Linked DNA regions of Homo sapiens. The protein of the gene in region 1 purifies or fractionates together with the protein of each later gene. This does not show direct contact. Each region holds a gene or a part of one and is shown in the gene's direction. Other genes may lie near its edges.

The links.
Region 2: the proteins of RAD52 (region 1) and ERCC3 purify together in Homo sapiens (affinity purification with western blotting; one study listed by BioGRID). This does not show direct contact.

Annotation. Positions count from the first base shown.
Region 1 is NC_000012.12:939,652-943,198, reverse strand, and holds part of RAD52 (DNA repair protein RAD52 homolog), read left to right. Parts: intron 1-3,547. UniProt on the Homo sapiens protein: Involved in double-stranded break repair. Plays a central role in genetic recombination and DNA repair by promoting the annealing of complementary single-stranded DNA and by stimulation of the RAD51 recombinase.
Region 2 is NC_000002.12:127,277,134-127,280,680, reverse strand, and holds part of ERCC3 (general transcription and DNA repair factor IIH helicase/translocase subunit XPB), read left to right. Parts: intron 1-49; coding exon 50-234; intron 235-1,305; coding exon 1,306-1,508; intron 1,509-3,547. UniProt on the Homo sapiens protein: ATP-dependent 3'-5' DNA helicase/translocase. Binds dsDNA rather than ssDNA, unzipping it in a translocase rather than classical helicase activity. Component of the general transcription and DNA repair factor IIH (TFIIH) core complex.

The DNA of each region.
Region 1 (3,547 bases):
GTTCCAGTTGCTTTACATCCTTGCCAGCATTTGGTGTTGTCAGTCTTTTGAGTTATTCTGATGGGTGTGGTGTGTCATGGTCTTAATTTTAGTCCTCAGTCACTAATGGTGTTTAGCACTTTTTCCTGTGCCCATGACAATGTGCATCTTCCTTTGTGAAGTGCCTGCTCAAATCTTTTGCCCATTTTACATTGGGTTGTGTGTCTTTTTATTATTGAGTTGTAGCAGTTATTTATATAACCTTTATATCCTGGTTACCTGTCCTCTGTCTGGTTGCCTATTCATTTTCTTAGAGTTGTCTGATGAACAGAAGTTTTACATTTTGATGTAATCAGTTTTCTCTTATATTTTCTTTTATAGTTACTGCTTTCTGAGTCCTAGGAAATCTTGGCTACCTTCAGGCTGTGAAGATAATCTTTCATGTTTTCTTCTGTAAGTTTTTTTTTTTTTTGAGACAGAGTCTTGCTCTGTCGTCCAGGCTGGAGTGCGGTGATGGCGATCTCCGCTCACTGCAACCTCTGCCTCCCAGGTTCAAGCGATTCTCCTGCCCCAGCCTCCCGAGTAGCTGGGATTACAGACATGCGCCACCATGCCCAACTAATTTTTGTATTTTTATTAGAGACAGGGTTTCACCAGGTTGGCCAGGTTGGTCTTGAACTCTTGACCTTGTGATCCACCCGCCTCGGTCTCCCAACATGCTGGGATTATAGGCGTGAGCCACCGTGCCCGGCCTATAAATTTTATAGTTTTAGTTTTATGTTTAAGCCTATCACCCATTTCTAGTTTAGGTGAATGGTGTGAGATATAATTAAATATTAATTTCTTTTCCATATAGATATCCAGTCATTCCAGCACCATTTGTTGAAAATGCTATTGTATTGCGTTTTGGAAATTAAGATGACTGTACAAATGGTAATTGATGTCTGCACTCCCTTTTCTGTTCCATTGTTCAATCCTTGTGTTAGTACCACACTTTTAATTACTGTAGCTTTTTAGTAAGTCTTGAAGTCATGTAGTTGTAGGTCTTCCAATTTTGTTGTTTTCAAGCTTGATGTGAATATTCTAAATCCTCTGCATTTCCATATAAATATCAGAATTATCTTTACCAGTTTTACAGAAAAGTCTGGTAAAGTTGTGATTGGGATTGCATTGAATCTATGGATCAATTTGGAAAGAAATGACACCTAAACAGTATTGAGTCTTCAAATATATGAACTTGGTGCATTTTCCTTCTTATTTAAGCCTTTTAAAATTTCTTTTTAGGCCGGGTGCAGTGGCTTATGCCTGTAATCCCAGCACTTTGGGAGTCTGCAGCGGGCAGATCAGCTGAGGTCAGGAGTTCGAGACCAGCCTGGCCAACATGGTGAAACCCCGTCTCTACTAAAAATACAAAAATTAGCCAGGTGTGGTGGCAGGTGCCTGTAGTCTCAGCTACTTGGGAGGCTGAGGCAGGAGAACTGCTTGAACTTGCTCAGGAGGTGGAGGTTGCAGTGAGCTGAGATAGTGCCATTGCACTCCAGCCTGGGCAACAAGAGCAAAACTCTGTCTCAAAAAATAATAATAATAAAAATAAAAATTTTGGGCCAGGTGTGGCGGCTCACACCTGTAATCCCAGCAATTTGGGAGGCTGAGCCGGGTGGATCACCTGAGGTCAGGAGTTTGAGACCAGCCTGACCAACATGGAGAAACCCTGTCTCTACGAAAAATACAAAATTTGCCAGGCATGGTGGCGCATGCCTGTAATCCCAGCTACTCTGGAGGCTGAGGCAGGAGAATCACTTGAACCTGGGAGGCAGAGGTTGCAGTGAGCCGAGATGGTGCCATTGCACTCCAGCCTGGGCAACAAGAGTGAAACTCTGTCTCAAAAAAAAAAAATTCTTTTAGTTCTGTTTTATGGTTTTCAGTTCAGAAGTCTTATACATATTTTGTTAAATTGATTTCTAGATATGTTTCTTACCTTTATTGTAAAATGGAGCCATCATTTGCATCATTCATTACTCTGTATGTAATGTGTTATCATTCTCTACCTGCTTTCAAGATTTTCTCTTTATTTTTGTTTTTTAGCAGTTTGTCTGTGGTGTATCTAGGTGTCATTTTATTTGTATTTATCCGGAGATTTATTCTTGAGATTTGCAGAGCTTCTTAAATCTGTAAATTTATGTCTGTCGGCCAATTTGGGAAATTTGGAGCTATTAGTTTTAAAAATATTTCTTCTGTTCCATTCTCTTTCACTTCTTCTGTATGTGAGTTCAATTTCACTTCAATTGTATGTGAGTTAGACATTTTGATATTAGCCCACAGGATCCTGAGGTTCTTTCATTCTTTTCAATCTTTTTTTTTTCTCGAAGTTTGCATTTCGTGAGCAGGAGTGACAGTCATTCAGGATGATTTTTGAGATTCCTAGTTCAAGAGTAGTTCCTATTCTTTTCTAGGTGTAGTCAAGTATGGCTTCTAATTCTACTAGAAGGCTTTTTTGTCGGGGAGGTGGTTCTATGTCCTTTGGCTCTTACATTTTCTTTGTGTCTTTCACAGCACAGTTTTCAGAGGGTACCCTTTCTCTTTGGTTTTGTTTTGTTTTGTTTTGTTTTAGACGGAGTCTTGCTCTGTCTCCAGGCTGGAGTGCAGTGGCGCAATCTTGGCTCACTGCAACCTCTGCTCACTGCTACCTCTGCCTCCCGGGTTCAAGCAATTCTCCTGCCTCAGCTTCCTGAGTAGCTGGGACTACAGGCACGCGCCACCACACCCAACTAATTTTTGTATTTTTAGTAGAGACTGGGTTTCATCATGTTGGCAAGGCTGTTCTCCATCTCTTGACCTCGTGATCCGCCCGCCTTGGCCTCCCAAAGTGCTAGGATTACAGGCGTGAGCCACCGCGCCCGGCCAACAGAGGGTACCCTTTCATTCTTTTTCTCCTTCTTCCCAGAAGGCTTGCGTTTTCAAGACTACCTCATCAAGTTCTGCATGTGTTTAAAAGTGTCTCTACCCGACCTTCCCTTCCTCCCTCCCGATTTAACGGAATTCTTTGTTGGTGTTTTCATACTTACCGTGAGTTTTCTTTTTCAGGGTGATATTTTAGTTCCATCTTAGGCTCTCCATTGTCCTCTTCTCTCTTCTTTTTTTTTTTGAGACAGAGTCTCATTCTGTCACCCAGGCTGGAGTGCAGTGGTGTGATCTCTGCTCACTGCAACCTCTGCCTCCCAGGTTCAAGTGATTCTCCTGCCTCAGCCTCCCGAATAGCTGGGATTACAGGCGCACACAACCACGCCCACCTAATTTTTGTATTTTCAGTAGAGACGGGGTTTCACCATCTTGGCCAGGCTGGTCTCAAACTCCTGACCTCGTGATCCGCCTGCCTCAGCTTCCCAGAGTGCTGGGATTACAGGCATGAGCCACCGCGCCCGGTGCGCCCAGCCCTCTTCTCTCTTCTTTGCATCTCTCTTCCTATCTGGATCCCTCTTTGCTGTCCTTAAAGAGCTGAGATGAGAGATTGAGAAACATCTCTACAAGAAATTGACGTTTTTCTACTTATGGGTAATTAGAAGCTTGT
Region 2 (3,547 bases), on another chromosome or scaffold:
AAAATAAGAAAGAAAAGTGACAGTGTGAATGCTCCCATTGTTTCCTCAGCCAAGATGTTCCGAAGGGTGCTCACCATCGTGCAGGCCCACTGTAAGCTGGGTTTGACTGCGACCCTCGTCCGCGAAGATGACAAAATTGTGGATTTAAATTTTCTGATTGGGCCTAAGCTCTACGAAGCCAACTGGATGGAGCTGCAGAATAATGGCTACATCGCCAAAGTCCAGTGTGCTGAGGTAGCTGGGCCTGGGCTGGGGGCGTCTGGGAAAGGGCCTCCTCCTATGGGCAGGGGAGTGATCAGATCGATTCCTCATGGGCAGACACAGGTCAGGACTTAGGCTCACCTGCTACCACTTCATACAGGATCCTCAGTCACCCTGTGGTTGGGTGGTACTAGACCCACTTGCTGCATATCTTCTGTCTTGTCACATATCTCACATACCCCTGAATTTGTGATGATTCTTTTTCCTAGCCATGGGGTTTACCAGTCATGGATTTCTGTGGGTGAGGATTAGCATTCAGGGCACAGGGATGAATGAAGGCCCCTGATACCACAGTGCTGCCTGGGAGCCTGGCAGCAAAGGGCTTTGCTCTGATAGCCCCAAGCGCCTAACTGATATGCTCCCAGCCCTGCTGGGAAGTGTGTGAAGAGGTGGCGGTACTCAGTAGCAGTGCTGACTCGTGTGTGGAAGTGTGGCTTAAATGGAAGAATTGCTGACACTACCAATTGAGAATCTGGTTTCGCACACTTGCAGCTGGTGTGAAAATAACTCCCTGGATGTGATTGCATTTAAAAATCTTTTAAGTGGTTAACATGTGAAAACGTCCAGTTCAATAGGAGGTATTAGGTTGGGTTTAGTTTTGTGCATGCATTTATTTTCAGTTGTACTGATTTCTAATTCACATAGCATTTTTTTTTTTTTAAAACAGGGTCTCACTCTGTCACCCAGGCTGGAGTGCAGTGGCGTGATCTTGGCTCACTGCAACCTCCGCCTCCTGGGCAAGTGATTCTCCTGCCTTAGCCTCCTGCGTAGCTGGAATTACAGACATGCACTACCACACCCAGCTAATTTTTGTATTTTTAGTAGAGACTGGGTTTCACTGTGTTGGCCAGGCTGGTCTTGAACTCCTGGCCTCAAGTGATCTGCCTGCCTCAGCCTCCCAAACTGCTGGCATTACAGGCATGAGCCACTGCACCTGACTGGTTTTGTTTTAAAGCTAATTCTGCTAGAGAAAGGTCTTCAAAAGTTTTAAATTGTGTGGTGTTTAAACTTGTAAAATGACCCCTGGTTCTTACTGTATTACAGGTCTGGTGCCCTATGTCTCCTGAATTTTACCGGGAATATGTGGCAATCAAAACCAAGAAACGAATCTTGCTGTACACCATGAACCCCAACAAATTTAGAGCTTGCCAGTTTCTGATCAAGTTTCATGAAAGGAGGAATGACAAGATTATTGTCTTTGCTGACAATGTGTTTGCCCTAAAGGAATATGCCATTCGACTGAACAAGTAAGAATTGAAAACTTGGAGCTTCCTCCAGGCCAGTTTCTCTTCCCCATTGAGAGTGCAGAAGGTGGCTGTTGTTTTGTTTTTTTGTTTTTCTCTCAGGAACTTCTTGGGCTCCAAAGATCTTGTTCTGTGGCCCTGGTCTCAGAAACCAGGGAAGACCTGAAGTAGGTGGTTGGAGTCAGAGGTTAGAGCATAGAGAAAAGGGGGGCTAGTCACCTTGAGCCCAAAGAACAGGGAGCAGAGACTTGGACTGAGCTGGGTGGGGCCCCATGGAAGATCTGGGCTCCAAAGGTGGGTGGGAGTTGGCATTTGGAGCTTTGGGCTGTGTGAGCTCTGTGGGTGGAGAGGAGGCCAGACTGGATGGCCTAGGGGCTGGGAAGGCAAGATGGGCTGGGCTGGCATCCCAAGTACGGACTGGCATCTGGAAGGAGCTTAGAAATGCCCACGCAGTATCCTCATCAACCCATGGCTCCACCCAAATATTTGTGCTTAAAACCTGGCTTTTGTAAAGCTCTGCCAAGTAAGGAGGAAGAGGTCTGCGCTTGCTCCTACAGTGACACAGGACTTCAGGTGCTGTAAGTGTTGCAGAAGGCCAGGCCCTCTATGGAGACAGGTCAAGCTATGTGCTATGGGTACTATACATAGGTTTTACTTAATCCTCACTTCAGCCATATAAAATGTTGTTCCCATTTTATAGAAGGGAAGACAAACTCATAGAAAGATTAAATTTCTTAAGTTTCTAAAATTATACCTTTATTTAATTTAGAAAGACTTTTTAATCCAAGTCAACATTTAGATTATTGTGAAAAACAGCAATTCCCTGCTTCTATTTTCCCACCCACAATTCTATTCCTTGAAGACAGCCGCTTTTGACTCTTTTTTGTTGTTTACCTTCATATTTCTTTCTTTCTTCCTTTTTTCTTTTTTTTTTTTTGGAGTTAGGGTGTCACTGTGTCACCCAGTCTGTAGTGCAGTGGTGTAATCACGGCTCACGGCAGCCTTGACCCCCTGGGCTCAATCAATCCTTCCACCTCAGCCTCCCGAGTAGCTGGGTCTACAGGCACGCACCACCACACCCAGCTAATTTTTGTTTTTTGTAGAGATGGGGTTTTGCTATGTTGCCCAGGCTGGTCTCAAACTCCTGAGCTCAAGCAGTTCCTCCTGCCTTGGCCTCCCAAAGTGCTGGGATTAGAGTCATGAGCCACCACACCTGGCCAGCCTTCATCTTTCTAAGCAATAGCTTATGTAGTAATTTCTTGATGATCAGTTATAGAAATTGCCTATTAACTTCCTACTGTAGGAGTTGAGGGTTTAGCTTTCTTACATACACCACTCTCCCCACTCCTGTTTTCTCTCCTACCATTCTCCCAATATGGGAATAGCACAAGTTGGGGGTTACTTTAATATTCAGTTACATTATTTTGACTGTGTAAGTATGTTCAGGCAGAGCTGTAGAGTACTATTACATTTTCCTTTTTTTTTTGAGACGGAGTCTTGCTCTGTTGCCAGGCTGGAGTGCAGTGGCGCTATCTCAGCTCACTGCAACCTCTGCCTTGTGGGTTCAAGTGATTCTCCTGCCTCAGCCTCCTGAGTAGCTGGGACTACAGGCACCCGCCACCACAGCCTGGATAATTTTTGTATTTTTGGTAGAGATAGGGTTTCACCATATTGGCCAGGATGGTCTCGATCTCTTGACCTCGTGATCTGCCTGCCTCGGCCTTCCAAAGTGCTGGGATTACAGGTGTGAGCCACCATGCCCGGCCTTACATTTTCTTTTTTGTAAATGTTTTTTTGCCTTGGAGTTAATAATTGCCTTGTCATTGTTTTTGCTTGGTTTTCTGTGCATTGAATAATTATTCCCCTCCAAAGTCTTCACATAACCATAAACTCAGTAGGGTCAGGTAATTTCTCAGTTCTGTTTTTCTGTTTCCCCAGTGGGATCCCCACCAGCACTCCATTCGCTTACTCTGTTCTGGCCTGCTTGCTGTCTAGGACTAGAGACACCACCAGCTGTTACCATGGGGTTTCCCTTGGACACT